3 separate regions of the Homo sapiens genome follow, and regions 1 and 2 are each linked to region 3. Evidence: fine-mapped expression QTL. A gene starts in region 3. Each other region holds a variant in brackets. All regions are shown on one strand. Distances are between the middles of the regions. Region 1 has its middle 45 kb from the start of LINC02330. Region 2 holds the start of LINC01147 (long intergenic non-protein coding RNA 1147). Region 3 holds the start of GALC (galactosylceramidase).

What was found. PIP is the estimated chance that this variant, and not a neighbour inherited with it, causes the effect.
Region 1: its variant is the best candidate, but not a certain one, in a credible set for the expression of GALC in gastroesophageal junction (GTEx, PIP 0.77).
Region 2: its variant is the best candidate, but not a certain one, in a credible set for the expression of GALC in whole blood (TOPMed, PIP 0.52).

Annotation. Positions count from the first base shown.
Region 1 is chr14:87,695,098-87,705,459 of GRCh38, reverse strand. No RefSeq gene overlaps it. Among named protein-coding and RNA genes, the nearest start is that of LINC02330, 45 kb to the right of the region's middle. The variant C/GC (reference allele first, on the strand shown) is at 5,477.
Region 2 is chr14:88,017,484-88,027,845 of GRCh38, reverse strand. LINC01147 (long intergenic non-protein coding RNA 1147) reads left to right here and starts at 1,534. Exons shown (of 3, transcript NR_110121.1): 1 at 1,534-1,758; 2 at 4,070-4,171; 3 at 9,143-9,241. It overlaps HISLA (HIF1A stabilizing long noncoding RNA), which reads right to left and starts at 3,296. Exons shown (of 4, transcript NR_046094.1): 1 at 3,177-3,296; 2 at 2,365-2,439. The variant G/A (reference allele first, on the strand shown) is at 6,253.
Region 3 is chr14:87,988,769-87,998,966 of GRCh38, reverse strand. GALC (galactosylceramidase) reads left to right here and starts at 5,785. Exons shown (of 17, transcript NM_000153.4): 1 at 5,785-5,997. The coding sequence starts at 5,803. It also overlaps the pseudogene RNU6-835P. RefSeq lists enhancers at 5,448-5,777, 5,472-5,972 and a silencer at 5,928-6,117.

The sequences.
Region 1 (10,362 bases), 290 kb after region 3:
GCTGGGGTGGTTCCTGCTTAGTCTTCACATCTCAACCTAAATGTCAGATCTCCAGGGAGGCTCTCCTTTAGCTACACGGCTTAAGAGAAGTCTCTGGTGTTACACTGTCTTGCCTTTTCTTCCTTAGCTCCCACCATCATTTGTAATGACATGATTGTCTTATTGTGCATGCTTGCTTCATGGCTACCTCCTGCCATTCCACTGTGCTCTTTGTGAGAGTATAGACTATGGCTATGCCGCTTGACCTTGTATCCTCATGCCTAGCACAGAGTCAGGAACCTGCTAGGTAACCTGATTTGTATTCAGCGCACGAATGAATACATGAGCAGTTTTGCGTTAGTGGTTCTTTGGCAATTGGGACAGAAGCCACGATCCACAATGAGCTTGATATAAGGAAGACAAGACATCTTTAGGAGGAGAACCCAAATAAGACTGATTTCTCTGAGGACCGAAACTCAGAGTGAGCATTTCCAGGGAACCAGCAGAATTAATAAGAGGACATAGAGCAGATTGCCTGGTGACATCGGAGCTTGTCATTTTTAACTAAACGTTCCAGGATCAGGTAACCCTAGAAGGCTGGAAGAAGCAGAGTTGGCCTGGAGGCAGACACAAGGATCCCATCAGGGTTTGCATTGGAAAAGCAGAGGCCTTGGGACTTACCAGGGGATTGCCAACATCTCTTCTAAGAAGCCCCAGGTTCTTTGGGGCCACCTAAACAGCAGGTGGGGGAAGGCAGAGGGGTAATCATAGAGGAGAGAGATTTGCATCGATTGAGGGAAAGCACGCAGGGGGAAGAGTGGTGAAATCATTCCTCCATTTCTCGTGATGGCAAACGCTCCCTGGGGCATATGTTTGGTGGCCCCACAAGGATCTGTCCTTCCACAGGGCTCTTCCTCATGGAAGAGGATAAACTGGCTCCTTTATTTGTCTGATGTTTGGTGATTTCTTTTGTAAATTAAAGGAAATTCAATGCATGCTAAATGGTGGGAATGCATTTGTAACTTAAATGATATTTAACTATGATGAATTGCCCAGGCTAATGAAAGGTTGACAAACCTTAGCCGTGCGTCACACGCTCCGAAATGAAATAGGAGTCAATGAAGCAGCTAAATGCCCCCTTAAATGCCAATCCACCCCTTTCAGTCTAAACCCCCTTCTAATTCTTTCATGAAAATAAATGGAAGGATTCTTCATTATATATTCATTTTCTGAATCCATTTTTCTCATTAGGCTGAAATAAGGGGTAGGTAAGGGTTTATTAGGGAGTAAGCATATCTGATAAGCATTAAATTACTTCTGATGGCTTTATGTATTTAATAGTGTTAGCAAATTAGCTTGGTCTTTTATCTAATGGAGCTGATGTTGATGAGGAGTGTGGATTTAACCCTGCATTAAACAGAACACTGACCCAGGTATCAAGGCGGGTGACTGAAGAGTTGATCCCCGCTCTTCACTCCTGTCCTTGGAAACATTTCCCTGGTGCATGTCTTCAACTAACTGCCTCCATCTGGGTGACTCCCAAGTCATTACCTCTAGTCCTGTCCCACTGAATGTCAGTCTGTAGGTTCTGGATTCCTCCTGCACAGTTATACCTCCCCGACGTTATTCACAATCGACTGAACACACATCCCCTTGCTTATTATCTGCTGCCTTCCAGACATCCTAATTTCTATTACCTGTTCCACCATTCTTCTCATGGCTCAGATTCCAAATCTTATTGTTGTTCAATTCAGCAAACATTCTTAAAAATGGCTTTTTCAGGCCGGGCGCGGGGGCTCATGCCTGTAATCCCAGCACTTTGGGAGGCCGAGGCGGGCTGATCACAAGGTCAGAAGATTGAGACCATCCTGGCTAACACGGTGAAACCCCATCTCTACTAAAAATACAAAAACAAAATTAGCCAGGCATGGTGGTGGGTGCCTGTAGTCCCAGCTACTCGGGAGGCTGAGGTGGGAGAATGGCGTGAACCTAGGGGGTTGAGCTTGCAGCGAGCTGAGATTGTGCCACTGTGCTCCAACCTGGGCACAGAGTGAGACTCCGTCTCAAAAAAAAAAAAAAAAAAAAAAAAAAAAAAACTCTTTTAGGGTGGCGGTGGTTTTTTTAGTTAACTTTTCCAACTCACTGTGATACTGCTTCTTCATGTTCCCAGAGAGGAGTGTGTTAGAGTGTGGGTTAGCACTGTGGACAGAGGACTGAAGGGTAGGGTTCCTGCCTGTCAGAATCACATAGAGGCAGGAACTAAATATGTCAATAGATAATTATAATGTAATATGCATAAATTATTTTAAGGCACAGAAAAGGCCACCTAAGGGTGGGAATGGATAGTGAGCAAGGCTTCAGAGATGAGGTGATGTTGGACTTGGCCTGGAAGAATGAGTAAAGCATGCCAGGTGTTAGTGTTGCAGGGAGCAGGATGGCCATAGGCTCGTATTGATTCACTGTGCATACAGGAGTCTTACTTCCATTTCCAGTGATCTCTAAAGTTTCCAGCATTCCTTGAGCATGTTGAATGAATCTCAAGTTTTGTTATCTTCTGGCCTAATGGGGAGGATGGATTCACAAGTCAGTTGCAAGATGTATCAGAGTCAATGTTCTGGCAGAAAATGGACAGTTCTGAAGAGACTTGCTAATAAAGATAATGTTTATAGTGGGGAGGGCAGGGTTTAGGAATCTTCAAGGGATATTGAGGCATCCAGTGCCCAGAAATAGCGGGAAGCTCTCATCACCCCAGGTCTAAAGGGGCATCAGAAGACATGAGGTCTAAGGAAGCTGGCTGCTCACAGAAGCTGATGTCATAGATATAGCTACCACTAGAACCTCACTTGAGTAGGGAAGGTGCGGACAAGCAGTATCTATGTATGACTTCTCTTGTCTGTTGGTCTCCAATCTTCTGCTTATGTATCCCCTTGGTCAAACCCAGTCAGAATCCATTGAACAAAGGCTAGATTATGCAATGCGTGAAAGTCGCTTTTCATGGCATAGAGCAGACAGACAGGTCAAAGAATGAATCTCAGAAGGGAAGTGTGGGGAATGGGGAATGAAGACTCAAAGAAGACTTTTCTCGAAAGTAAATGAGCTCTACCTTCAACTCCAGCTTGTTCACATCCTCTGGGCGGGAGTTTTCACTTGTAATTTGTAAGAGAGAAAAAGAGTATGAAAAGTCAGAAATAGAGTTGTGTGTAACAATGCTAAGTAGAAAGAGGAGTTTCATATTACTCAATTGACTTTAGCTTCTGAGAATAAGTAGAACGAGAACAAAGAAGAAGATAAGAAGTAATCTTCCTTTGAAACTTAGGTGGCAGAGATGGCTGGTTGCCTCTCCCCAGACTATGCTCTATCTTCTGTTAGAATATTCTTTTAATTTTATTTGACAATGTAGTGTGCACATCTCAAGGATAGCATTTCCCAGTATCATTCACTTAAAGGGAGACTATGAATTGTAAGTAGAAGTCATTGTGTGAACTTCAAGTCATTGTGTGGACCTTCAGCTCAATTAGCTAAGAGTGAATCTCTTGTCACTCCTTGCTTTTCCTTTTGTTTCTGCCTGGAATCATGGCTTGCGTTCATCTTGTGTTCTTGATGAGGAAATCCATGCCCAATAGGCAGTGGCACTCAATTTACTCAATTGGTTCTCTTCCTATTAGCCAAAAACAAATTCTAATGGATATGTCATGTTTATGTAAGTTCAATACTCTTATAACCTCTTGGCAGGATATGGGACTTGGCAGCAAACTAACCAAGTAGGATCTTTGGTAGCCATTGCACATAGCAGAGGCTCTTTTTGGGATAGAGTGCATGTTCCAGCAACAATTTCTTCTGTGTCATATCACTTACTGATGGTGTGAAAAATTCACTTTCTGAACTATAAAACGGGATTCTTTTTCTGACAGTCATGAACACAAAGAAAAAAAAGGAAATAATATTGAAAGTTAGGACTGTACCAGAAAAAAATAAAGGAACATCCTAATGCCATTCATAAGCTAATTCCCCAAATTAAAGATTGTATGATATTTGTGCCTTTACAGAACTCTAGTGAATCTCTTGTTCAGCCGTCTACAGACTACTGGCCTAGGGGCCAAATCTGATCTGATATCTATTTTTTATAGATAAGTTTTATGAGGATATGGTTATGCCCAATCATTTTATGGTTTTGTATGCTACTTTCGTGCTACAATGGCAGAGTTGAGTGCTTGCTACTGAGACGGCATGGCCTGAGAGGCCTAAAATATATGCCCTCTGGCTTTTACTCAAAAAATTTGCTGACTCCTGCTCTTGTCTATAATGACTCCTGCTCTTGTCTATTATGATTACATCTTTTGTCTGCAAATTTGTGTTCATTTGAGGTTTGGATATGATTCAGTAATTTAGATTTTAGAAAACAACAGTATGACTATTTGTGGAATTTATTTAGTACTTGGTTTCCTCAACTTCTCCCCCATAAGAGGTGTATTAGAACATTTCAAGTCAATCAATTACAGTGGAAGTCTTAGGGAATTATAGTAGTCATAACTGATAATCATTGATGACTGTATTGAGGGGTTTTTGAGATGTGGATTATTTGTATAAGATTAGAGTTTGTAGGTGCCTTGAGGCAATATATTTAAAGATTATCATTTTGTACAGGGGTGCAGTTTTAGGAAAGATGTACTTGAACTACCGAGGAAGGGTGAATACAGGGGACTCACCAAGGCTAGGAGATTCTTTGCAGTAACTAGCACATAGAAGGCCTCAAAATGCCTAATTACCCTTAATCATTCTAATTTACTACCAGTAGAAATAACTAAGCATAAAATTCTGAAAAAAAAATCCGGATTCTAGTTGGTGGGTTGTAAAGCATTCAAGATCTCTTGATTAATGGGTTAGATCTGAAGCCTGGGCTCATCGCTTAATAGATGTATTACCTTGGGCAAGTTTCTTACCCTCTCTGAGGCTCTTTTTTTTTTTTTTTAATTTGTATATGGGAAAAACAATGGCATCTCACTATTAAGATTATTGGGAGAATCAACTGAGTTGTAAAACATGTGTGTGTATACAGATATATACACACACATACACGTACATACATATATACACACACATATATACATACACACACATATATGTATGAACACACATATATGTATGTGTGTGTGTGTATATATATGTATGAACAGAAATGGGCAGCTTTTAAGTGCTGGTTAACCTATTAACACTTAATAATCCTACTGGTATAGCTTGGCTGTGTTCCCACTCAAATCTCATCTTGAATTGTAGTTTCCTTAATTCCCGCATGTTGTGGGAGGGACCAGGTGGAGATAATCGAATCATGGGGGTGGTTTCTCCCATCCTGTTCTCCTGATAATGAGTTAGTTCTCATGAGGTTGGATGGTTTTATAAGGAGCTATCCCCTTTGCTGGGCACTGATTCTTCTCTCCCCTGCTGCCATGTGAAGAAGGACTTTGCTTCCCCTTCTGCCATGATTGTAAGTTTCATGAGG[C/GC]CTCCCCAGCCATGCTGAACTGTGAGTGAATTAAACCCCTTCCCTTTATAAATTACCCAGTCTCAGGTATGTCTTTATTAGCTGCGTGAGAACAGACTAATACACCTATTAACACTTAATAAATGTTAACTATTATCATTTGATTCAATTTCTTTTTAATCTCCTCAGATTCCAGTTTTCATGCTAGCTGATAAAGCCAGCCTACTAACAGACAATATAAGATATTTCATTAGGCAATGTGAAATATGTTATTTATTTCATTATTAGAAACTCAAGAAAGAGCATCCTACAAAGCAAAGTTCTGTTTTGGGTAACCCTCCCCATTTTTTTTGTATTATGGCTGTGTGTTTATAAAGTTGCATGTATATCTATTCATTAAATGAATGTGCAGTTTCAGTTAACTTGGGGAATAGAATATTGATTTAAACCATACTTTAGGAGGCTTATCTATCACTCTGAACAAATAAAAACTTCTGTGAGATTGGATTTCATTGCATGAGACAGGAAAAAACATACTCCGCTGAATACAGCTTGTGGTTGTAAGGCCAACTTCTAGAGGTGTCATCAATATATCGGGTTCCTGCTTTCACTTTTTAATGATCTCTGTCAACTCTAATAAAGATACGCTCACTTTCATTGAAGCAGAATTTACCCTGTCTCTCAGGGATTTTTTTTTTAAACATACTGACTATACCTTCAGCCTGTCATTATCCCAGAATTGACATTTCTACCTTCAAGATTTGTTAGCGTTAGAGAATCAATGTGTTGATAAGAAATTTTGTCCTACCTTGACTGTGGATTTTGAGCTTTCTCTTTGTGGAGTTTGACTTATTTCCAAACTGCTTCCATAGAGGAAAAAGACCGTAAATTACAAATACTGAATTTACCAACTCCATCTTGTTCTGCCCTCTTTTCTCAGCTCTCATGCTTATAGCTGGAGAGTTGAATGAAAAGCTTTTTAAAACTTTCTCCAGTCCAGTTTTGGAGTCAATTAATCCTCTGAAGACCACAGATTGTCCCTAGTATTCCTTTTCCCATTTGTTTTTTTGTAATAGAATTCCAGAGTCTATGCTTATCTAGCTGAAGACTCCTTATTTTCTAGAATTCCTCAAACCTGTGGGTGGCTATATGGCTTACTTCTGGCTTAATGGGGTGTGATAGAAGTGAGGCATGCCAACTGCATGTTATACACCCAAATTAAGGTCATGTGCCCTGCATGACCTTCCCCCTTTCTGGTGATTAGAATGCATCAGCAAATAAAGCAGGAACATTACACCACAGTGTGGGAGTGACTCATTGAGGAGGCGCAGCAGCTGGGCAGAAGGAGCCTGGGTGCCTGATTGGCAGAGGGCTGCTATAACAGCCCTAGTCTACGTAAGCCCAGAACGTCCCAGAAAGAGAATTAATGATTTTGTTTAACCCACTATTATTTTAGCTTTTTCTAGAGCAGCTAATAGAGAATTTGGGATTTAGACAGGGGGTGCTACCACACTAAGACATAAAATTGAGCATATTTACCTCACAGTTGACAACGTGGTAGGTGGGCATGGCAGGGCAAAACGTTTAGTAAAACCGTCACCTGCAGCATCTCAGAAGACCACATTATGCCACCAGAGTATGTGACTGTAGCAGAACTGGTTGGAAAAACAGGGTGGTAGTTGGTGTTGGATGATTGTTCCTGTTATTTGCAGGACTACCAAAGAGATGAACTCAAGTGATAAGGAAGTAGCAACAGCAGCAGCTGTTTCAGTGGCCCCAAGCCTTTCTCAGGTACCTTCTTCAGTGCTTCTGGCTAGATAATGGGAGCCATTCCTACTGCAAAATCAGATTATAAACATTGTGCTCCCATCCAGGGCTTTTGTTTCAGATGTCCTCAAAATCACCATAAAGAGGATGGTAGAGGGAGTTGGGTAGAGCATGAAGGCCAATAAATAAAGTACATAAACACAAGAAATTTCATTTACTATGATAGGTCTAAAGGAGAATTTTGGTTGTGGTTGCTTAAACTGGGAAGTGTTTGGAAGCAAATACATCTTTATGTTTTTGAGAAAATAGTTTTTCCAAAGAAATTGCAAGCCCAGCCAGCAAAAGTCTGATTTTTCAACCCCTAAAGTAACCCCAGACGTTCCTATATGCACCACTAGGAAACAGACAGCAAACCTGTGCAACCCTGAAAAAGAAACACTGTTCAGTTTTCATTGTATGTGAGTCCATGAAAGATAACAGACAAGGGCGTTTCTCCTAGAAAATCCAGAGAGCTGCCAGACAGGTTACCCAAAGAATTTGTTTCACTGCCCAGCATGATGTGCAAATGGCCATGGGCAAGGAACTGCCATCCTTTCCATTCACCTGTTTCCTGAACGGGGGTTTTCACTGCAGTTGCCCTGACTCTACTCAACCATGTTGCTCTAGAGCAATGGCTTGTAGATAGCTCAGACTCTGGGCATCCATATCAGACCTAATGGAGAGAACCGTGCAACTCCCAGAGTTACTAAATTTGAGCTGCCTGCAGAAATTGGGCAGAACTTTAAGTTATCTCTCTTGGGGATGATGGGAGGGTATTCCATGCCTAAGAGGAAGGGTATGTATCAATATTTTGTCAGTAAAAATGGGAAGCACATGCTCTAATATCCATTTTTCCTTCTTTTGGTCATATGATTTACCCAACTGTTTGGCTTCCCAGCTAGAGACTACATTTTCTAGCCTCCCATGACACTTGTTTGCTTGACTAAATTCTGCCCAATGGTGTGTGAGTGGGAGGTCTGAGTGCTAATTGTTTGCTGAAGTCTTAAAAGGAAGAAACATGTCCTCCTCTTCAACTTCCCTTCCTCTCCGTTTCTGCTGGCTGGAATATAAACATGATGGAAGGCACTGGAGCAGCCACTATGGACCACAAGTTAGAATCTGCATGCTGGAGGTATCAAAGTACCAGATGGAGATGCCTAGTTTCTTGACACTGTGGGGCAGTCTGCAGTCCTGACTGCTCTGTATGAACTCTTACCTTGGAGAAAAATAAGCTCTCTTATTCAAGTCATTCTTCCCTTAGCTTCTGTTTCAGCAGCTGAAATGGTCCCCTAACTAGTACAACAGAATACTATTTCTTCTGAAATGGAGATCTGAATTGCTGACAGCTCCTTCTTCAGATGGGAACTGTGGGGGCATTAATCATGGTCAGAGATTCTCTTGTCTGCCTCTGAGTGCTATGCAGTGAGGACTGCAGTGACTGTACAGGGACTTGTTCTCGGCCCTGCTGAGGTGACAGGATGCCTAGGGGTGGTTATTCTCTGGCCTTACCATGGAGAAGTTGATAGGAGTGCCTGGTGTGTGTGGCTTCCCTAAGCCTCATGTCTGCAAACAGTCACAGTCTGTCTAAAGTGCAGTGGTACACAGAGCTGGCAGGCCTGGGATAACCTAACTGAAGAGGGCTGTGACATCTGACTCCTCCTCAGGAATCACTGCAGCTGCCACTGTGTACCTGCCCACTGAAGAGATTGTCTGCTCACATGCTCTGCCTGGGAACCATCCCAGTCCTAAGGTTTTCAATACAGCTTGAAAACAAGCCCTCAGCTGTTTTATAGGCACTTTCTATGTCCACTCACTTTGTGAAGAGACAAAATGCCTTTGGTTTCAGAGCCAGGGAAATCGTACTAAATTCTGCAGTCTCAACCCATGGATTTAGAGCATAACATATTTTTCAAGGGGAGGTCTTGGAAAGAACAAAGGATTTGGTATAAAAGATTTACATTCTCATTGTGATTGTGTCAAGCTCTGTAGTTTAATTGTCAAAATTGAGTCTAAAATCAATTCGCTTTAGGTATAATTCCTTACTCTTTTCTGTGTGACCCCAGACAAGTTATTTATGCGCTCTCATTGTAAGCCTGAATTATATCATCTGTAAAATGGGGATTTTTTGTGGTGAGCATTACCTATTTAGCTATTTACACAATGCCTGGTTTAACATAAGCTGTCAGTAAGTTTTGGATATTATGGATATTTTTATAATTATAACCATGCGTTTCACAGGATATGTGACTAATCATGAAAGTCTTTCTGTTATGAAAACTCTGAAAACCCCAGAAACTCTTGATGGGGATCATAATAATGATGGTGTATGATTGACGGTGGGATGGGCGCAATGCAGAGCAGGGAAACAAAAGCATTTGACATAATTACCTTAAGAGAAAAGTGGCAGAAAAGAAGTCTGCATTCAGACAGTGTATACTTATTAAATACCAACTCTGGGCTACGCTTTGCTCTGGACAGGAAAAAACAACAAAGTGCCTATTTAATAGGCATTTTTATTCTGGTGGGGAGAGCCATTCAATAAATAAACAGTTGCTTTTGGGTGACCAACCTCCCCAAACCCACATGGCTCACCCATAGGTGGCACAAATCCCAGATTTGATTGCTAGATGTCTGAGCCCTGAGGATTTATGCTTCACTCTGACCTTTGACTCCTGTCCCTAGGAAACATATTTGAATGGAAAGATAATGGGAATCTCTTTGTTACAGCTCAGACTTGTACTGAGTCTCTTCTTTGCTCCAAGTTCTTTTCTTAAAAACATTTTGTGGTTTCTATATTTAATAGGTTTATATAGTTATGGGGTAGACAGGTATACAATGTGTAATAGTCACACCAGTGTAAATGAAGTGTGCATCACCTCAAAGATGTATCCTTGTGTTGTAAACAATCCAATTATACTCTTAGAATTATTTTTAAATGTTTATTTAAAAATAACATGTTATTTAAAATAATAAATTATTATTCACTATAGGCACCCTGTTTTGCTACCAAGTACTAAGTAGGTCTTATTCATTCTTTCTACCTATTTTTTTTTTTGTACTCATTAACTATCCCTAGCTCCCTCCTACCTCACCACTACCCT
Region 2 (10,362 bases), 29 kb before region 3:
TGGAGGTGCAGGGAGGTTCATGCTCTGTGAGACAAACCTTTGACCAATTGGAGGCTGCAGCCAGTGGCTAAATTCTTCACTTTTCTCTGTGATTAAATTATTACAACTTCTTAGAAGATGGTCCTATGGGATTGAGCAATCAGTCATACCTGGAAGCAGTTAGACCTATAATGCATCCTCATATTACTCCCCCTTTTTCTCTATTCTACTCCCTTTCCTTCCTCATTCCTGCTCCCTGGGATTGTACAATCTAATTCAGGCTGGAATATTATCCCACTTCCCAATCTGATCCACTTGTGGCCCTCTGGTGATTCCACTGCCACAGTGAATGTTCCCTCCCATTGTACCATAACTGAAATGTGGCATCTTCTGAGGACACAACTTTCCCTGCAGCCCACTCAAATGAAGACTCCTGGCTCACCAATACTATTCCCAGACCATTCTTCTTCCTTGTTCCTTTGAAATGTACGTCATCCAACTAAAATACCTTCTTGTCCTTCTAAATATCTTTTGTACCTGTCCATTTCTTGCAACCCAAGATGCCACCTGCCTAGTTCAGGTCTCCACTGAATCTTGCCTGTTTGTTTGAACAGCTCTCTCTTTCCACCATCAAATAACTCTCTGCTTCTCATTTTGCCTCCCTCCACCTATATTGGACACTGAGACAAAAGTAATCTTCCTAAAGCACAAATTGGATCATGTCATTCATCTACTTACAACTTTTTTGTGGCTTCTTATTGACTTGTTTCTTTCCAGCCTTTATCTTCTGCCACTTCCTCCCTCACCATCAGCTTCAATAACACTGAACTACTTTCATTTTCCTAAAATGGAGCCTGTCCTTTGCATGTGCTGACCCTGAAACAACCTCCCACTCTTGATCAATGCCCACTCAGTCGTTTAGGTCTCAGAGGCAAGTGTCCTGGACGCTTTCAAGATTGAGCTAGTAGTGGACATCTTATCCAACCTTCTTACTTAACTCTTACCATAGCACTCACTACTTTGTAATTTTTGTCTCTGGATCCTGTGTCAGACTTAAGGCTTCCCAATTCTCCTAGCATCTAGTAAAAATTAAGCATTTGGCAAAAATTCATTGCAAGAATGTCTAGATGAATTGTTTTTCTTTTCTTCCGATTAACTTGTTCACCATCTTTTATAGTATCATTAAAAAGATGAATGTACATTTTTTCTTATGTATTTTCCCAATGTACTTAAAAAGTAAAAATAAATGGCACATGAACAGCATGAAATTGACTGGGACCTTTCTCAGGCACAGTTTATATCACTGGGCTAAACCGCTTACAGTCAGCATTTAGGAAAAATAGATTAAATTCCATACATAGACTTATAATCATTTATCATATTTGTATTCCTTTTACATTTTCATATTTTTAAAATCCTGTGCCATATTTTTATCACAATAGTGTATCACAAAGCTGAACACACCTCCTCTTGAACATTTATCACTAGTGGCCTTGAATCTTATGTGATATCATAATCAGAATTTCTACTTCATAGTGACTGATAGAGAGCAGCAGTCTCAGCTGTAAAAATAGAGTCCCCAGGGAATACTGATAGCCTTTTTCCAATAAAGCGAAATCTATTTGCAATAATAGGTATATGCAAAGACCTCCTGAAATTACAGGAGCAAACTCCTTCCGCATCTCGACCTAATTAAGATCCGTTACTCAACAGTGATCAGTCAGATTTTACTGTAAGAAGGAAGAAAACAAGGATCCTGCTAGAACAACATGGAAACAGGTAGGCTATATGTATGGTGGTTACAGTCACAGGCATTTGGGTTCAAATTCTTGTTCTGCTTTTAGCCTCTCTAGCTTTCCATCTCTTATTGTACAATGGGGAAAATAACATCTACTTCATAATATTGTGGGGAAATTAAGTAAAATATCAGATGTGGAGTTCTCAGCATATAGTATCCTCTCAACATACCCATGGCAGCTATCACTGATGAATTCCCAGAAACCTGGGACAATAAGGAAGTCTATTAAAAGAGCCTTAGCGACCAGCATCTTCAGGGAGGGATGGGGGTCAAGGAGCCAGAGGGAGGTGAGAGAGGATGAAGGGAGAGTGACCATTTTCTCTAAAGTAGTTTTTATTAAATTTTAACAGCTTCCAACCCGGGGTTCAGAACTCTAGGCAATGACCTAGTAGTCAGTAAGGCAGGAATAAATTGTGATAAGCCTGGTTCTATTATGGAAAACATTCTCAGCAAACTGCAGGGGAGAGATAGCAGGAAGATCCATGGCTAATGCACTGCTTTTAAAGAACTTTCATAACTCACTGGACACATAGGGATGTTATGTGCTTTTGCCTAGTCATGAACAGAAAATAAACACAGTTACTTACTTGTCAGGCAGAAAACTTGATTAATTTTTTTAAGCAGTAAGCAGAATCATAGGAAATCATTTCCTTCATGCAAGCCTGCAATAAACGGGAGGTGCATTTGCCACGAATTCATTTTGGTGTTCACATGGTAAAAAAATACTGCCACATGTGGAATGAGCCAAGTGGGCTTTAGAACTGAAGGGGACCAGCCCCTCCACACCTGTGGGTGTTTTTCGTCAGGTGGGACAAGAGACTGAGAAAAGAAATAAGACACAGAGATAAAGTATGGAGAAAGAACAGTGGGCCCAGGGGACCGGCACTCAGCATACGGAGGACGGGCGCCAGCCCTGGTCTCTTGAGTTTCCTCAGTATTAATTGATCACTATCTCTACCATCTCGGAGAGGGGGATGTGGCAGGACAATAGGGTAACAGTGGGGAGAGGGTCAGCAGGAAAACATGTGAGCAAAGGTCTCTGTGTCATAAATAAGTTTAAGGAAAGGTGCTGTGCCTTGATGTGCATGTACACAAACATCTCGGTGCATTAAAGAGCAGTATTGCCGCCAGCATATCTCACCTCCAGCCATAAGGCGGTTTCCTCCTATCTCAGTAAATAGAACGTATAATCGGGTTTGACATTGAGACATTTCATTCCCAGGGATAAGCAGGAGACAGATGCCTTCCTCTTATCTCAACTGCAAAGAGGCCTTCCTCTTTCACTAATCCTCCTCAGCACAGACCCTTTACGGGTGTCTGGCTGGGGGACGGTCAGGTCTTTCCCTTCCCACAAGGCCATATCTCAGGCTATCACATGGGGAGAAACCTTGGACAATACCTGGCTTTCCTGGGCAGAGGTCCCTGCAGCCTTCCGCAGTGTATCGTGTCCCTGGGTACTCAAGATTAGAGAATGGCGATGACTTTTACCAAGCATACTGCCTTCAAGCACTTGTTTAACAAAGCACATTCTGCACAGCCCTAAATCCATTAAACCTTGAGTCAACACAGCACATGTCTCTGCAAACACAGGGTTGGGGCTAGGGTTACAGATTAACAGCATCTCAAGGCAGAAGAATTTCTCTTAGTACAGAACAAAATGGAGTCTCTTATGTCTACTTCTTTCTACATAGACACAGTAACAGTCTGATCTCTCTTTCTTTTCCCCACGTAGAACTCTGAAATAAACATTGCAAAAAATCATACCCATAAAAATATTAATCTGTATTTCTTATGCTCATATTTTAAGGTTGAAAAGATCAATATAACATTAGTACTTTATCACTCTCAAATACTTTTATATCCAATATTTCATTTGCACTGAATAACAGATACCATTAGGTGGGCAGGGGAAATATCCTCCTATTAAAGACAAGGACACAGTCTCTGAGAGGTTATCTCATTTGTTAAAGGTCACGTAGCCTGTAAATGAAAGAACAAAAGTTCAAACAAACCTCATGCCTCCAAATCAAGAGGAAGCCTCAAGGGACCACACTGATACTGCTGTTAGATATGTTCACCGTCTCATGTATTTTGATGTTTACACAGGCCATTTTTAACATACATGTTTAGCAGTCAATGCCACTGGAAATCAGACCAGGGCATGTGTTTAGACATCTTATGGGTATTTCCCTGAATGAGCCCATGAATAGAGTGTAAAAATAGATAAGAAACTGACTTCCTGTTTGTTTCTCTGCTCCCACTTTTTGTCCTTCTTCCGTTGTGCCCTGGGAGGCTGATCTTAGGACCTACAACAAAGAGATTTCTCACTGGCTTCCTGGTGGTTCATTCAATAGGGAATTCCTGCAGCAAGTTGGAGGGAGGGAGGAGAAGCAGGTATGGATTTTTGTTTCTTTCCCTAGTTCTCATTTTAATGCCTGGCCATAGGCTGGCTATGCCTGGGGGTCTGCAGACAGACTTCTGTGCCTCCAGCTTTGGTAACCACCCCCTCTGCTTGCCCTCTCAGAGCCAGGGGCCTCAGGGTGCCCAGATGTTCTTATCCCCAGTTCACGCATCATCCTTGTGGCTTCCTTGTACCCTGCCCATCCTTTGTAAATATCTCTTTACTAAACTTTCCTCAGAATACCTGAATTTGAGTGATCTCTCCATTGCCTGCCAGGATCCTTCCTGACATTACCTTCCAGAATGAATATTTCTGAAGGAGTCTATTCTCTATGCAAAGAAACTCAATTTCTCACCATGTATAAAAGGAAATAAACATCGTTTTCAATGGAAAATAATGTAGGGGACATGTCTGGTGTCACAGGTGTGTTTGGACCACACAGCCCAGAAAGATGTAGTCATAGAAACAGACTCTTTTCTCTCCTTTGTTTGGTAACAGCATCCTGATTTTCCCTTGAGAAACGATCCTCTCTTCTCCTTACAGTCTCTGTTATTATGGTGGGACCGACCCTACTCTCCAGGGCAGGCATGGGGCCCTGCCCTGGCTTATGAGAAAACTATACACCCCTAACCACAGTGATCAGTTTAAAGATGGGAAGGAACAAGGGCAGGGGAACCTTTACATTTTCCAGAGATACCAAGAAAGAGGCTCTCTTCCCGCTGGATTTTCTAATCTGTGGAACCTGGGCCTGGAGATGCTGTTAACCATCTTTGACATCATATAAAAGCCAAAATAAAATAGCAAAAGGTGGAACTGAGAGATGGTGAAAATGTCCTCCTGGCCACAGAGGTTGAGCATTTGAATTCAGCCATACCTGAAAGTGTCCCTGCACTTTTCTCCCCTGGACCAATAATCTTTGTGTGTGTGTGTGTGTGTGTGTGTGTGTGTGATCTGTTGTCACCTTTATCCAGAAAAATCTACAGTAAAGAAAAAATTTATGAACTGGGAGACTTGGAATTGGGCTTAGATCCCTCACCTATAAAATGAGGGTTTTGTACTGGATGTTCTTCAAATGCCTTTCTAGAGCTAAACATGGACAAGGATCAACAGTAGCCAATCTTCCAGGTCAGCTAGAACTGAAAGAACAGTTATGCCTCAAAGTGAGCTCATTCTCTGTTCCTAGCACGTTCACTGCAGCACTGCTGTCCACCCAATAAAGGACAGACATCATTACAAATAAGGGCCCTACCCAGCCCTGGTCAGCCCTATTGATAACTCCCAGGAGAGCTCATACCATCTTCCCACTTCAGTCCAATTAACCCAATACACTATATAATTTTCATAATACCTCTCTTAAAATCTAATCAGCACACCAAATGTCCAAAGAAATATTCAATGTTTACCAGAAGTGAAATGTGGTGATAGTTATTGCGATTGTTAGCATTGCATCTTTATGTCTATCCTCCTTGAAAGGGACTCAAAAAACCCTTCCAAGCCCTCCAAGTTTCCACCAAGTAATATCTTCCTTCATGCACTGTGGCTTTTTGATACTTTCCTCTGGCATCCATTTGATGAAAATTATTTTCATCAAAGGATGCCAGAAAAACAAATGAGTTTTAAAGTAAAGATGAAGGAAAATTTTGAAAAGTACTTAATTTCCTCATTATTCATCCATTCATTGTTCCACTATCCAATGACCAAGGCACTGTTTCTGGGCTGTTCACAGTAGCTCTATTTTCTGCTATTGTTTTTTATTTGATGAAAATTTAGCTTAAACAAACTAGGCTTATGTAAAATCAATGTAATAGCACAATCCTGCATAATTTGCCAAGCATTTGATGAGTTGAAAGGTGACATATTTGCACACTACATTTAGATGTGGGAAAGAAACTATCATCATTGCGCCCTGAAAACCTCATTCCCACCATTGGTGGGGAAATAAAAACCCTAAATTTGTGCATAGAAGATATTTCCATGTCTGCTGGCTTAAATAGTCTTTTAAAGACTTGTTTATGTCTTCTGGATAAAGACTCAATCAAGTTTAAGTTCCATGCCCCTCTTAGTACTGTTTCTC[G/A]TCTTGGAGAGCCACTCACTAGAAGGCACTTTCCACAAGAGGTGCCTCTCACAAGATGTAGTCTTCCATAAGATGGCAACTGGATGGAGAGGAAAGCTTACCTGTCCTCTTTGCTGTGAGGATGTCAACCTGCTGCTCCTCATACTGTCTTCTGGTCCCCTCTGGCCTTTGAGATGATGTCCTGTCTGTCCATTAGGCATCCCCCTGGCAGAAGCTTCTGAGACCACAGTCAGTATAATTGGTGATCTGGTGGTCTGCTGGGGGTCTACTGTGTCCCCTCCAGTTATACTCCCTTGTCTTGGTTCTTGCTAGAGCAGCAGCTCCCCATGGTCTCAGCTGCCTCCTCCATCCACCCTGGGCCTTGGTTCTCCACCCAGCAGCCTCTGCCATGGGGTCAAGTTTCCCTCCCACTGGGATCCATGGGAGGCCCACTGGCCCTCATCTCTCTTCCATACTCTTCTTCCTCTGGGAGCAAGTGACAATGTTTGGATTCCTTCCCTATCCCACAGCAGAGGACCTATTCCCAGTTATCTTTTCTTCTTAAGTATCACCACCATGGTATACCACCATGTCGATTTTTCTGTTCTGTTGCAATTTTACTAATGCAGGGGTGCCCTAAAAGGTGATCTCCTCCCTGAACCCCAAACAAGGCATGAGTCCCCTCTGCCGCTCTGCTTCTGGGTTTCCTTGCTGATCTCTCTTAATATGAATCCGGAAATATGTCCTATCTCTTGCTCTCGCTTTCTGTACCTCATGGATTCTTCGTAGAATCAGAAGGTATATCTACTTCATCTTTTTGTTGTTAAAAGAAAAACTTTAGCCAAATTAAATTTAACAGAGTTTAATTGAGCAAAGAACAATTTGCAAATTGAGCAGCCTCCTGAGCCACAGTAGGCTCAGGGACTCCAGTGCAGACACATGGTGGAAGATTTATAGATAGAAGAAAGAAAGTGACATACAGAAACTAGTGTGAGGTACAGAAACAACCAGATGGGTTGCTACTTGATGTTTGCATCATTTGAACACAGTTTGAACAGTTGGTCACCTTTGATTGTCCAAGACTCAGTGATGACACAAGAGTAGACTACAGTCTGAGTGCAACTCCATTTAGGTTATAGTTCATGATGTACACAGAAACCTTTAGGCTGAACTTAAAATACACAAGGAGGCAGCTTTAAGCTAAACTTGATTTAACACTGTCCAGTAGGGCATCACCAAGTAATATCTTCCTTCATGCATTGTGGCATTTTGATACTTTCCTCCTTTTTCCTGGGCAATAAACTGGGCTTTAATGATGGAAAGCCTTTGGGAGAACAATCACTTATATGGGAATGGAAAATGTAACAATTTAATGTCTTCTAAATAGGATTCCTGTTACATCTAGAATATGTAAAACTCTGCTAGTTTCTAGGAAGGGAGCTGAGGATAGGCTCAGAGGGAATTAAGACGTGAATTAAACATGATTTCTGTTCTTAAATAGCTTTCAACTTGGAGGAAGAGATGGATATGAACACCATTGGCCAAGGCATGGCATAAGAACCAAATGTGGCCTGCACCACTGGGTGATGAGATCAGACAGGGGTGAAAGATCACATAGATCCCTTAAAAAGCTGGCTGCTTTCAGTTTGCTTCTTCTCAATTCTGCAGGTTAGAGACCACAGCCAGAAACCTGATTAGCTGCAGTCTTTGAGCCTAGACCTTAGCTTGAGAATTTCTGTCTCAGCAAACATCAGGTTGGGCCTGAACTTGGGGGTGGGAGGGATCCATCTCTTCACTGGGTGGGACTGTACCTTTTTTTCTGGTAGATGGCAATTAATAGGAGGTACTTAGGAAAGGGCTGCACTCTATTTGAGAGCAGTAGTTCTCAAAGTGTGTCCCACTCACATCAGTGTTATCAGGGAACTTGTCAAAAACACAAATTCTCAGGCCCCACCCTAGGCCTGCTGAATCAGAATCTCTGGGGATGAGGGATTGAGCAAAGAACAATTTGCAAATTGAGCAGACTCCTGAGCCAGAGTAGGCTCAGGGACTCCAGCACAGCCAAATGGTGGAAGATTTATAGATAGAAGAAAGAAAGTGACATACAGAAAATGGTGTGAGGTACAGAAACAACCAGATGGGTTGCTACTTGATGTTTGCATCATTTGAACACAGTTTGAAGAGTTGGTCACCTTTGATTGGCCAAGACTCAGTGATGACACAAGAGTAGACTACAGTCTGAGCGCTCTGTCTTAACAAGCTCTCCAGGTGATTCTCATCCATACTAAAGTTTGAGAACCTCTTCTCTAGACTCTAAAATTATGTAACTCCACACCCACACCCAGGGCCCAGCAGCACTGGCATTACCTGAGAATTTCTTAGAAATGTAGAATCTCAGGCCCCACTTCAGATGTATTGAATAAGAATCTTTTAAACTAAGATTCCTAGTTAATTCTTATAAACATTAAAGTTTGAGAACCATTGCACTAGGTGATTGGACCTATATTCAACCTGGATTCTAGATCATAGGTGGATAGTATCATTTTTTAAATTATTATTATATTTTAAGTTCTGGGGTACATGTGCAGAACGTGCAGGTTTGTTACAGAGGTATACATGTGCCATGGTGGTTTGCTGCACCATCAAACCGTCATCTACATTAGGTATTTCTCCTAATGCTATCCCTCCACTAGCCCTCCAACCCCCGACAGGCCCCGGTATGTAATGTTCCCCTCCCTGTGTCCATGTGTTCTCATTGTTCAACTCCCACTTATGGGTGAGAACATGTGGTGTTTGGTTTTCTGTTCTTGTGTTAGTTTGCTGAGAATGATGGTTTCCAGCTTCATCTATGTCCCTGCAAAGGACATGAACTCATCCTTTCTTAAAAGTTATGTTTTCTTCTCTTTTCCAGGGAGGCCACCTCCTGTCAAAGCTGGGACATCTGAGAGACAGTGGTCACACAACAACTCAACTGCATGTGCACCTAAAACAGTAGCTTATTTTCTCTGACTGTTTCTTCTTCTTCTTCTTCTACTCCTTATTCTTATTCTTCTTTCTGATTTACCAACCTACTGGGTATCAGTGCAAAAAATTATTTTACTTGCGAATTAATGATATCACCACGTTTTCTTGCTTAAACTGTCTTTTTAGGTTAGCTCAGCTACTCTGGGCTAAACATTCAGTCTTTCAGATATACTCCACTTACCTTAGCTCCTCCCATGGTGGTTCCGGGGTTGGAGAGGCTTACGTGACCTTATGGTAGCAGGGCAGAGGCAGGGCTATGCTGCTCATGGGGCATTCTGTAAAAGTAAGATGTGTCTTCCTTATGATACCTTCCTTCCAGTTGTTGGAAAGTTGTCGTGCTGCTTTTATTAGAGCAAGCATCTTGTTGCCATATGCTTTAAAATGGACATAATAAATGTGCAAATCTTCAATGTCTGTTAAATGAATGGTGCCCTCTTAGACATGGATTTCTTGTGCAACACTCAACCTGCACAACTGTATGCCAGTCTCTATTTTTGTACCACAGTAAAGTGCATGCATAAGGCTGAATATGGGGTTTTCCCCAGAGGCTTGCAGCTATCTTCAGGAAAAGCAGACTATTGGCATTGACCATCCTGGCAACTCTGGAAATTCTATTGATCTCAGGCCATGAGGATCAACATTTGTCTCCGACATCCTCATTTTAACTCTTCTTTGCCTCCTCCCCTTAGACCACTGCGGTCAGGAGCCCAGGCTTTTTCATTTCCCTGAATAATAGAAGCTTCGTTTACATCATGATTGGTTCTCACTACCCCCTGGCATAGAGAAAACTCCAATTTTAAGTCAGCCAGGCCTACTTCTTGATATGAGATGGGAGCCTAAGAGGTTTAAAAAGTTCTTTTATTTCCCCATAGTGTCTGGCTTTTGAGACTCCACTCACTAGTGACTCACAAACAATGCTGACTTGCTTTTTCTAGCTAAAGTTTACCCTTTTCCTGAAGCATAAAACACACTGTTTCTGTGTGTAGGCCCCACAGGGCAGCAGTGTTTTCTGGATTTGAAAAATTTAACAGAAAAGCTCTCAAAAAATTGTATTATTTTATCTGTCTTTTGTGGCAGTTTATTGAAAGCTATAAGAGGAAGCCAAAA
Region 3 (10,198 bases):
AAAATGAATGACTTAGAAAGAAAGAAATGAGGATATGGAACAAATTGATGCAGAAACTTCAGAATAAGACTTGTAAAATGGGCTAGAGTCCAAGGACCAAAAAGATAGCCAGGTCACTCTGTCTGAGCATTCAGGTGAGAATGGCACTGCTTGATCCCACTACTTTAGGTATCTGAGGCCACCTCTGATGGAGCCTCTATGCAGCTGCCTCCTCTGGACTCTGATATGGCTCTTGTGGGATTTCTCAACTGTGCATACATCTAGTTACTCTTCCAAGGTCAAATTTGCAGGTTCAAGAAACTGATTGAGAAAGCCTGGTCATTGTCAGAGCCTGTACTGATAAGGACAGTAAGAGAGAGGATCTGGCTCCTTAACTTCTGAAGGAGGCAGAATTCTCTTTCACACCAAGACTCTCACTATGAGGAATCAGCCACACACAACATAGATTTGGATGACTGTGGACAACAACCCAGCAAAAAGAAAAACTGAGACCAATACAAAGACAGGAATAATCTGTTTTTGCAGAATTAATTGTGGGGAAAGCAGTAAACTCAAAAGTTGTACGATAGTTATATAGGTATGTCATTTATGTTATTATTTATATAATAAGCACTTATATAACACATAGGATGTGTGGGTCACTCTTCTAAGTGCTATAAAAATATTAGCTTGTCCAATGTTCACATTAATGTATTGCCATCATTATCTCTATTTTATGGATGGGTAAACTGAAGCCCAAAGAAGTTACATAACTTAACCAAAATTACACTGCTGCTAAGCAATAGGAGAAAGATTTGAAGCCAGGAGACCTGGGGCTCCAGAGCCAGTATTCTAACTACTATACTACACTGCTCTTTGCTATAGAAGTTTTTATTTGTAGTTATACTTAAGAAAATGTTCAGTAAGCAATTTATAATTTATTTCATTAGGTGGATTCTGTCCTTTGACTTATTTTCATTTTGTTTATATAAAATCTTGAATGAATAGAGCCTTATAACATATTTTAGAGAGAAGTCACTCAGTAGGGCAGTATAACTAACAGTTGCCATCAAGAAACACGTCCAGAGTTGAAAGACCAGACAAATGGCAGATGTTGGATATATACTGAAAGGAATATAAGTCATTCTCCCATAAAGACACATGCAAGTGGATGGTCATTTCAGCACTATTTGCAATAGCAAAGCCATGGAATCAACCTAAATCTCCATCAGTGGTCTATTAATGGATAAAGAAAATGTGTTACATATACAACCTGGAATACCATGCAGCTATAAAAAAGAATGACAGGCCAGGTGCTGTGGCTCAGGCCTGTAATCCCAGCACTTTGGAAAGCCGAGGCGGGCAGATCACGAGGTCAGGAGTTCGAGACCAGCCTGACCAACATGGTGAAACCCCGTCTCTATTAAAAATACAAAAATTAGCCAGGTGTGGTGGCACACCCTGTAATCCCAGCTACTCAGGAGGCTGAGTCAGGAGAATCGCTTGAACCTGGGAGGCAGAGATTGCAGTGAGCCGAGATCGCACCACTGCACTCTAGCCTGGATGACAGAGCAAGACTCTGTCTCAAAAAAAAAAAAAAAAAAAAAAAAAAGAATGAGATCATGTTCTTTGTAGCAACATGAATGGAGCTGGAGGCCATTACCCTAAGAAGACTAACACAGGAATAGAAAACCAAATACTGCATATTCTCACTTATAAGACGGAGCTGAACATCGAGTACATATGGACACAAACAACAACAAAACAACAGGCACTGGGGCCGACTTAAGGGTGGAGGATGGGGGATGGGGAAGGATCAAAAAACTACCTATTGAGTACTATGCTTATTACCTGGGTAATGAAATAATCTGTACATCAACCCTAGGACATGCAATTTACCTTTGTAACAAACCTGCACATGCACCCTGAACCTAAAATAAAAGGTAAAAAATATAGCAGATGTTACAGGACAGTTCAAGAAAACACTCCACACTCTTATGTCCCAGGGGATTCCTACTTTAAGAAACGTTTCCAACTCCTTTTGTAAATAATTCTTTATTCGTATCCCCTTATGTGACCATTCAGTGATTTGTCTTTTAGTTCAATTCAACTAATATTTATTGAGTACTTAGCACAGTTTGGGCACTGTGCTTAAGACATACAAAGAAGAAATAAACTTGGCCTCTGCCCTGGAATTTCTGACAGCCTAATAGCAAAAACATGGAATCAACCTAAATGCCCATCAATGGTAGACTGAAGGGGAGGTGGACTGATTTATAAAAGTAAAGCCTTTTCCTGAAGTGAGACAACAGACTGCTATCATACCGTTTTATGATAGTCTTGGGGAAATAAAAAAAAAAATCCAGACTGCTATTAGAGTTTATCAATAAATTTTCATTAAAAGGCAAGATCTCTGATCCTTCTCAAGAGACTATTTGATTTTGATCACATTATTTTATTTAGAAAAAGGAGAGATTTGGGGTGGCTGAAGTATAGTTGTGATACTTAGAAACACCTGTTATTTAAGAGAAAAATCATCGTGTTTCCTTTGGCAGCACATTTACAAACACTGGAATGTTACAGAGATCAGTGTGGCCTCTGAGCAAGGATGACATGCAAATTCTTGAAGTGTTTCAGATTAAAAAGACAGAGAGAGAAACACTGTCATTACTTTTTAAACTCATTTAAAATCTGAAAACTGGGACCTTCCTTTCTTACCGTCTTATCTCACTGACCCTGATCCACAGACGCAAGGGAAGCTAAGCATATGATCACTCGTGGGGTAACTGTCATTTTTCTTTATCTCACATCTTGAGCACATTTGAGTGCCGTGCCCAGCACTCCAAGGATTTCTGTCAGCATGTATTTATTGGCCTTTTATTAGAAACTTTCTTACCTCATGTCTGCTCTCATGAATATAGATCAGAAATTAGAAACAAAAAATATTTATCTGGTAAGCAATTTCTTTGGTAACTGAACTAATAGGAACTACTGGGACTTCCTGGAAGTGAGGCTACCTTTTCCATTAGAGTTTATGCTTCCTCTTTTGTAGACTTCACACATTGCTCAAATATTTGTGGCGTGCATTCCAACTACAAGGTGCAATTGAGGGACGAGAAAAGGGAAAACTTAGTTGGGCAGACAGCTAAAGTTGGTCTTTGGTAAAATTCTTTTAAACAGAAAGACAGCCTGAAAAATCAAGCTACAGGCACACATAGAGTGGCCTGGGGAAAACTCAGGCAACAGCTGCCCTGATAAGAAAGGAAGGCCCAACATAGAAGCCTTTTGTTCTTTGTGTGATTAGCAGGTTCCCAGGAAAAAGTTTCTTCCCCTTTTCAGGCACATACATGGTGGGCTCTGTGGGAACTTGCATGGGGGTGGAGAGGGTGATTACCTAGAACCCACAGTTACACAAACAAGAGAAGCTGAACTTTATCCTTACCCAAGACATACCCACAGCTGCACAGATAAGGGGAGCTGCACAGATAGCTTTACAAGTAAGTTACACAAACAGCTACAGAGATGAGAGGAGTTTCTTATAAAAGCTTTTGGATTCAACTGTAAAAGTGGCAAAATGGCAAAGAAAGAAAGCTTTCTTCTTTCATATAATAAACTTTCTCTTCAACCTCACTCTGGTGTCCACACTCCTTAATTCTCTTGGTTGTGAGACAACAAGCTTGGATAACACCTCAGACAACGAGACCACTGACCACTGACCCGTTTCACAATGACGTACTACAGGATGGTGTATGCTGGGTATTCATACATCGTCATGCAACTTCCTAGTTTTATGTGTAAGGTAGTTTCCTCTGTCATCACCTTGGTATTTCCCATCTAGTCACGGTATTAAGTGGGTCTTATGCGCTTGTTAAGAGCTGGTAAGAGAAGCTTAACATTCACTTGATGGAATGGTTACTGTGGCTTGTATCCACAGGAGCTCCAGCTCATGCTTAAAATACTGTGTTAGAACAAATGGATCAGAGTGAATTCTGTAACAGTAAATCCACAGAACTGAAAATTACTGACTTGCATCATAAACTGGTTGCAGTGGCAAGGCAGAGAGTTCAGATTCGTGTTGTACTGGGGAAAGAAGAAACCAAAGAAAATAAGTGGTTCATACACAGGGGACTATTTAACTGATCCAAGCCAGAAGACTACTGAGGGTGAAAGGAGCATTATCAGTAATTATGTTTAGACAAAAGTTGTGACTGTCCTTAGTAAACCAGGATAGACGTAGAGTCAATTCAAAAAGAAAGAAAGAACAAACATATCTAATGTACATTAAGAACCCAGGGATATCGGGTTCTTAATGTGCATATTTATTGGATTGCCCAGAGCTTTGACCTTCAAGTATAATTGAGTTCTTGAAACTTAGATTTAGGTTTGTGGTTAAGGGGCAAAATAATCAGATTCCAAATAGGGTTCTGCAGACAAATCCCACAGGTCCTAAAGTCTCTGGGTCTTTTCCTTGCCATTGTGGTATCTCAGGGGCTTGTGTAGGCAATGATAACCAGTTCCATACTTCTGCTAAGAGAAATTTGGGGATCAGAAAATCTTTCTCTGCAGCTCTTCAGAGTCTCTTTAATTTACTTCAATAACAAGGAAATCAGAAATCTCAGGACAGTGCTGGATGTGGCAGAAATTCAGGGCAATTCACAACTTTCCTACCAATTTAGAGTTACCTGTCTGGAATCACTTCAACTGACAGTGGAAGATAGTTTATAAAATTGTAGGGGAGGCAAAATTTCACCTTCGTCCCTGTAGGGTCCCAGCATGGCCCTAGTATTAAATTGATTTAAGATATTAATAGACTGACAGGAGACAACCACACAAATGTTTATTTTACATAGCACGGGGGCCCTCATTAAAAAAAAAAAAGACCTAAAGCAGCAGTTAAGAGCCAATTGCTTATAGAGTGAAATGGACAAAAAATAGTAGTTGTGAAACATGATAAGGCGAAGGGGCTTGGGGTAAAGAAGCGACTAGAAAGATAGGGATTAACAAATTTTGTTTGGACAGATTTCCCTCGACTTCAACTTTCTGTCCTTGAAGATAACAATGTTATTTTATAGGGAAGACATCTTTCACATGGGAATTTCATCTCCTCCTTTTAAGACACATAATATCCATGACAGTGATCTTGCACCTGCTGTTTTTAAGTGCCTTTAATTTAAAATAGTCAATATGCCACAGCAGCATATTTTGAGGTGGTATATTATTAACTCCTTCAAGGCTAAAAGCTTTGAATATGCCGGGGTAGTTACCAGACTGGAGAACCTTCTCAGCTATTTGCCACTTGTGGAATGCATTCAAATGTACTGAGTGCTTATTAACTTTTCTCTCAGTCCCTCACTCTGCTGCTCTTCTCGCCTCATCTCACATAAGGGAAAACTCAGGCTCCAAAAGCAAAGTGATTCCACCAAGATGACAATGGAATCGGGACCTGGTGTCCAAGCCTGGTCCTCGCACGAGGTAGATACTCCCTGAGATGCTGGGGAAGAGCCATGGTAGGGCCACTCATGGCCCTCTTCCTTTGGCGGACCTTGGAATCCACCTTCCCTGCGTTAAAGTGCTCCACCAGGTGACGCCGGAAGAGAAGCCAGCAGTAAGTACATGTGAAATCCAGTAGCTGACCACAGACACGCGAGCGATAAGAAAAAGCTCGCTGCTTCTTTTCTCAACACTCCGCCAGCTGCGTCAGAGGCCCTTGACCCGCACTCAAAATGGCGGCGGCGGCGTCAGCATCAGCGGCCTCCTGCCCGTATCTATCGTGGCGGCGACGGGACCCGCCTCCCTGGGCGCCGGAGTCATGTGACCCACACAATGGCTGAGTGGCTACTCTCGGCTTCCTGGCAACGCCGAGCGAAAGCTATGACTGCGGCCGCGGGTTCGGCGGGCCGCGCCGCGGTGCCCTTGCTGCTGTGTGCGCTGCTGGCGCCCGGCGGCGCGTACGTGCTCGACGACTCCGACGGGCTGGGCCGGGAGTTCGACGGCATCGGCGCGGTCAGCGGCGGCGGGGTGAGCGGCAAGCTGCGGGGATACGCGGGGGGCGGCAAGAGCCCGCCCCGTGGGGCCAGCCCCACAAGCCCCCGCGGCGTTGCCCTGCGTTTCCACCGGCTCCACTCTCCGCCGCATTCCCCTAGGGTGCCAGTCAGCAGGCGGTTGGGGCGGGCCCGCTGCGGGGCTGGGGCGGGTGCTTTCTCGTTTAACACGAACCAGACAGGCAGTTAGGTTTGAACAAATGAGGATCCGGAGGTCCAGAGAGTATAGGTGCAGAGAGTAAAGTGACAGGTCTAAGTAGTGAAGTAGCCGGGGCTGGAACCCTCGTCCCAGGCAGTGGGGCACAGGCTGTCTTCATCGCGGAGATGGCAGTCGGGGAGCGTCGCTCCAGAAAGGGCCAGGGAGTGCGGGAGCGTCCGTGTGCGAAAGAGAACGCCCCAGTGGGATGCTTTGGCTGTGTCTCTCCCTTTTGGAGGAGTTGGTGGGTGGTGGAGTCGTTAAGTCCCGTGCAGTTGTTAGTGCAGGGTAAGAATGGGCTCCTCCAGAGAGGGTAGCGCCGAATAGGATTTCGTTTGGAGGCAGGACTGGTGCCTCAAGGTCTCTTTAAAAGGAAGATAAGCGAGCGGCCTGAAACTACCGGGTACTCCCTCTGGGCCCATGGGCTTCATGGTGGCCGACCTTTGGGTGAGAAGGTTTTTGTTTTTTGGTTTTGTATCCGAAATTACATCTAGGGCTAATGTTTCTTGAAAATGTTAAGGTTGAACTCGGATTTTTGGGGTTGAGTTGGATGGAGCTTGCATCCTTACATTCAACTCAGAACAAGCTTGAATGCCTGCTGCAAGGATGACCTGGTCTGTAGTGTGACCACAAGATATAACCTTCTGCTAGGGGAAATTTTTTTCCCCCTGGAGTTAGCTGATCCTTTTTGATTTTTATGTTTTCATTCCCTAATTTGCAATCTCTCCAGCCGTGCTGATGTGTATTTCAGGGGAAACCTGTGGGCCGATGAGTTAATGCATTTATTCTTTGCTACTACTATTCTCCTTTTTATGTTTTTGGGCTAAACCTGAAACAGCCAATATTTCATGGAGTGAGGCCCCATCTTTTTTATAGCTTTACTTGTGATACTATATCTAGGGTAAGAGCTTACCGAAAAATGGAAGTCTTTGTTTCCATTAGGTTTATTAAGCCCAGTTTAAAATTACTAAGATGAGAAGAATCATTTCGTAATTCAAAGTAGGAAACTCCTACCTAATCTGATAGAATATACAATTATTAGTATCCCTATATAGTTCATTACTCCTCATAGGAACTCACTAAATAATGAAAATTCTTGCAACATTATATTTGCATACCACTTTAAACTTCTTTGTGGAGTCCTTGGTTCCTAGCCCAGGTTGTGCCAGTAAGTGTTTAGAGTGCTGTCATTTAATCTTCATGTCAGAGAGGGAAAGCGGTATGGTACAGTAAGTAGTTAAGAATGTAGGGCCGGGCACGGTGGCTCACGCCTGTAATCCCAGCACTTCGGGCTTCCGAGGCGGGCGGATCACGAGGTCAGGAGATCAAGACTATCCTGGCTAACACGGTGAAACCCCGTCTCTACTAAAAATACAAAAAATTAGCCAGTCTTGGTAGCACGCGCCTGTAGTCCCAGCTACTCGGGAGGCTGAGGCAGGAGAATCGCTTGAACCCGGGAGGCGGAGGTTGCAGTGAGCCGGGATCACACCACTGCACTCCAGCCTGGGCGACAGAGTGAGACTCCGTTCAAAACACAAACAAACAAAAAAACCCAAAAACCAAACCAAAGCGAAACAAAACAAAAAGAATGTAGACTAAAGAGAAGATTGCCAAGAGTGTCTTCTGGGTTCTGCCACTTCACTGTGTGGCCTTGGTGGGTTATCTATTATAACTCCTCTCTGCCTCACTTTCTTTTTTTGGGATACAGTTATACCTGCATGGTAGGAGCGCCGTGAGGATAGACCTAAAGTACTTAGGATGATGTCTTGCACATTACTAATTTTGGTTAATAACCATTTTCAGGGATTAGGGAGGAGGAAGTTATTTCAAGGCCACTGAATGATGAAATGTCCCCAAGGCTTTTTCCTGGGCCTGTAAACAGTTCCAGGCCTCATTCAGGCAGTGTGGTTAGTAATCCCGTGATTTGCTATTGCTAGATGGTGCATTTTAACATTTGGTTATATTGCCTTTGACTTATGCTGTTGTGTTAGGTGTGGCTATAGGTTTGCAATAACATGATTGGTGTGTTTGCCTAAAGCCGATACTTTCTCTGTTAAATGTGGGAGTGCATAGAGGGCAAAAGAAACCCTAGACAGCAAAACGCACAGTATTAATGGCGTAGCGTAGGACAGGAAGCATTGTTTACCTAGGGTCAAGGATATATTAGTGTGCCTATACAGTGTTCATTTAAAGAGTGCCTATTTTAATATTGGAGCCTCTGCTAGGTTGTAAGCTCTTTGAGAAATATGTATTTTAAAAAATTTGTGTATATAACACTTGCCTTTATTGAGAACTTACTATGTGCCAGGTAATGTGCCAAGTCCTTTACATACATCTAATTTTAGTCTTACAGCAGTTGAATGAGTAAGATAGCCCACTTTACAATAATTTGCCTATGATTACATAGCTTATTAATGATGAAATCAGGATACAAACTCCATTTGACTCAAAGACTCCTATTTATGTTGCCAGTACCAGTGCAACAAAAGACCCATAAAATATTTAATAAGTGTTTATTGAATAACAAAGAATGAGGATACAAACTTGAATAAGATACAGTCCATGTCCTTAAGGAACTAAGAGGTGAGTCAGAAAAATAAAGGAGTGCCGGGGTTCAAAGTGTTGTAATAAAGATATGGACCTGGTGCCAAAGGAGAGGCGCTTACATCAAATCAGTGAGCAGGGCCAGAAGGCATCCTTCCTTCAAATTCCAGAGGTGGAATTTGAGCTGAAAGGTGAATTGGAGTTGTCCAAGAGAGGATGTGGGGTGCATTCCAGGCATAAGAATAGAAAACGTTGTTTGATACATCTAGGTAGAAGGTGTGAGAGTGATAAGGGATAAAGTATCAGGGTTAGGAGCCAAATAATTAAGGGATTTGGGTGCAAAATTGAGCGATTTGAACTTTATCCTGAAAGCTTTTGGGAAAGGGACGGTCTTAGCATGTTTACATGGAAGAGTTTCGTGATTACATTTGTATTTTGGGAAGGTTACTCTCGTAAGTAGCATGGAAGATAGAATACAGGGAGAGGCAGAAGGGATGTCCTGAGACCACTTATACTGTTCTCATAAGTGAGGAGGGCCTGGGTAAGTCAGTGGGGTTGAAGAGTAGAGGAGGGATTTGAGAGCTATTGAGGATATCTTGGTGACTGAGGGTACATGGGAAGTTTGGACAAAAGGTGGCCCAAGTTTATGGTTTCGGCAAGTGTTGGTTACTGAGACAGCAAGTTCAGGAAAAGGAGCAGATACATGCAAAAGTGCTATGTTTGGTTTGGGATATATTGAGGTAGATGGAAAGAGTGGCTAGAGAGCAGCTCCATGGGTGTTTGCCTCACTGGTAGGGACTGGGGATGTTTTGGGTGTGACAGAGTAGATATGGGCACTTACCAGAATGTCAGTGGTAGCATATATGAGAATATAAAATAGAAAGTTGAACCCCATAAAAGTATTTTGTCCCAACCATCATACATACACCTGGCAAAGTGTCAGCAGTTTGAACCTAGGACTGTCTGGTTTACAAGCCTGAGGCTACTGTTTCATGCCAAAAACCGGCCTCTTTTTATTTATTTTTTGCTTATATTGCCTCCCAAAGGATAGATTATGGGTCAGTTACTGGTTTTGTGATTTCTTTTTTCAAATAGTTGTATGCCGTGGTCCAGGCATGATCCAGTATTGGTCCCTGCGCTGTCTACCCTTGTCTTTCCATGCATTCTGATGCCACTCTTGTGTTAAGTTTTCTTAGTACAGCCTGGTCTGGAGATTATTGCTAGTTATTCTTAATAGTAACAGGTAGAATTTATGAGGATGGGGAAAGTAGTGCTTCCTTTCAGCATTGCTGCTTGTGATGTTTTTCCGGAAGATGTTAAGGGGAAAAATTACCTGACATTCATCCCTCCCATTTTAGTCCTGAGATATTGTTGTCAAGTGGTCTCAAGATAGAAAACCTGAGTTTCAAGATAAGTTTGTGATCATGAGGTTAGCAAG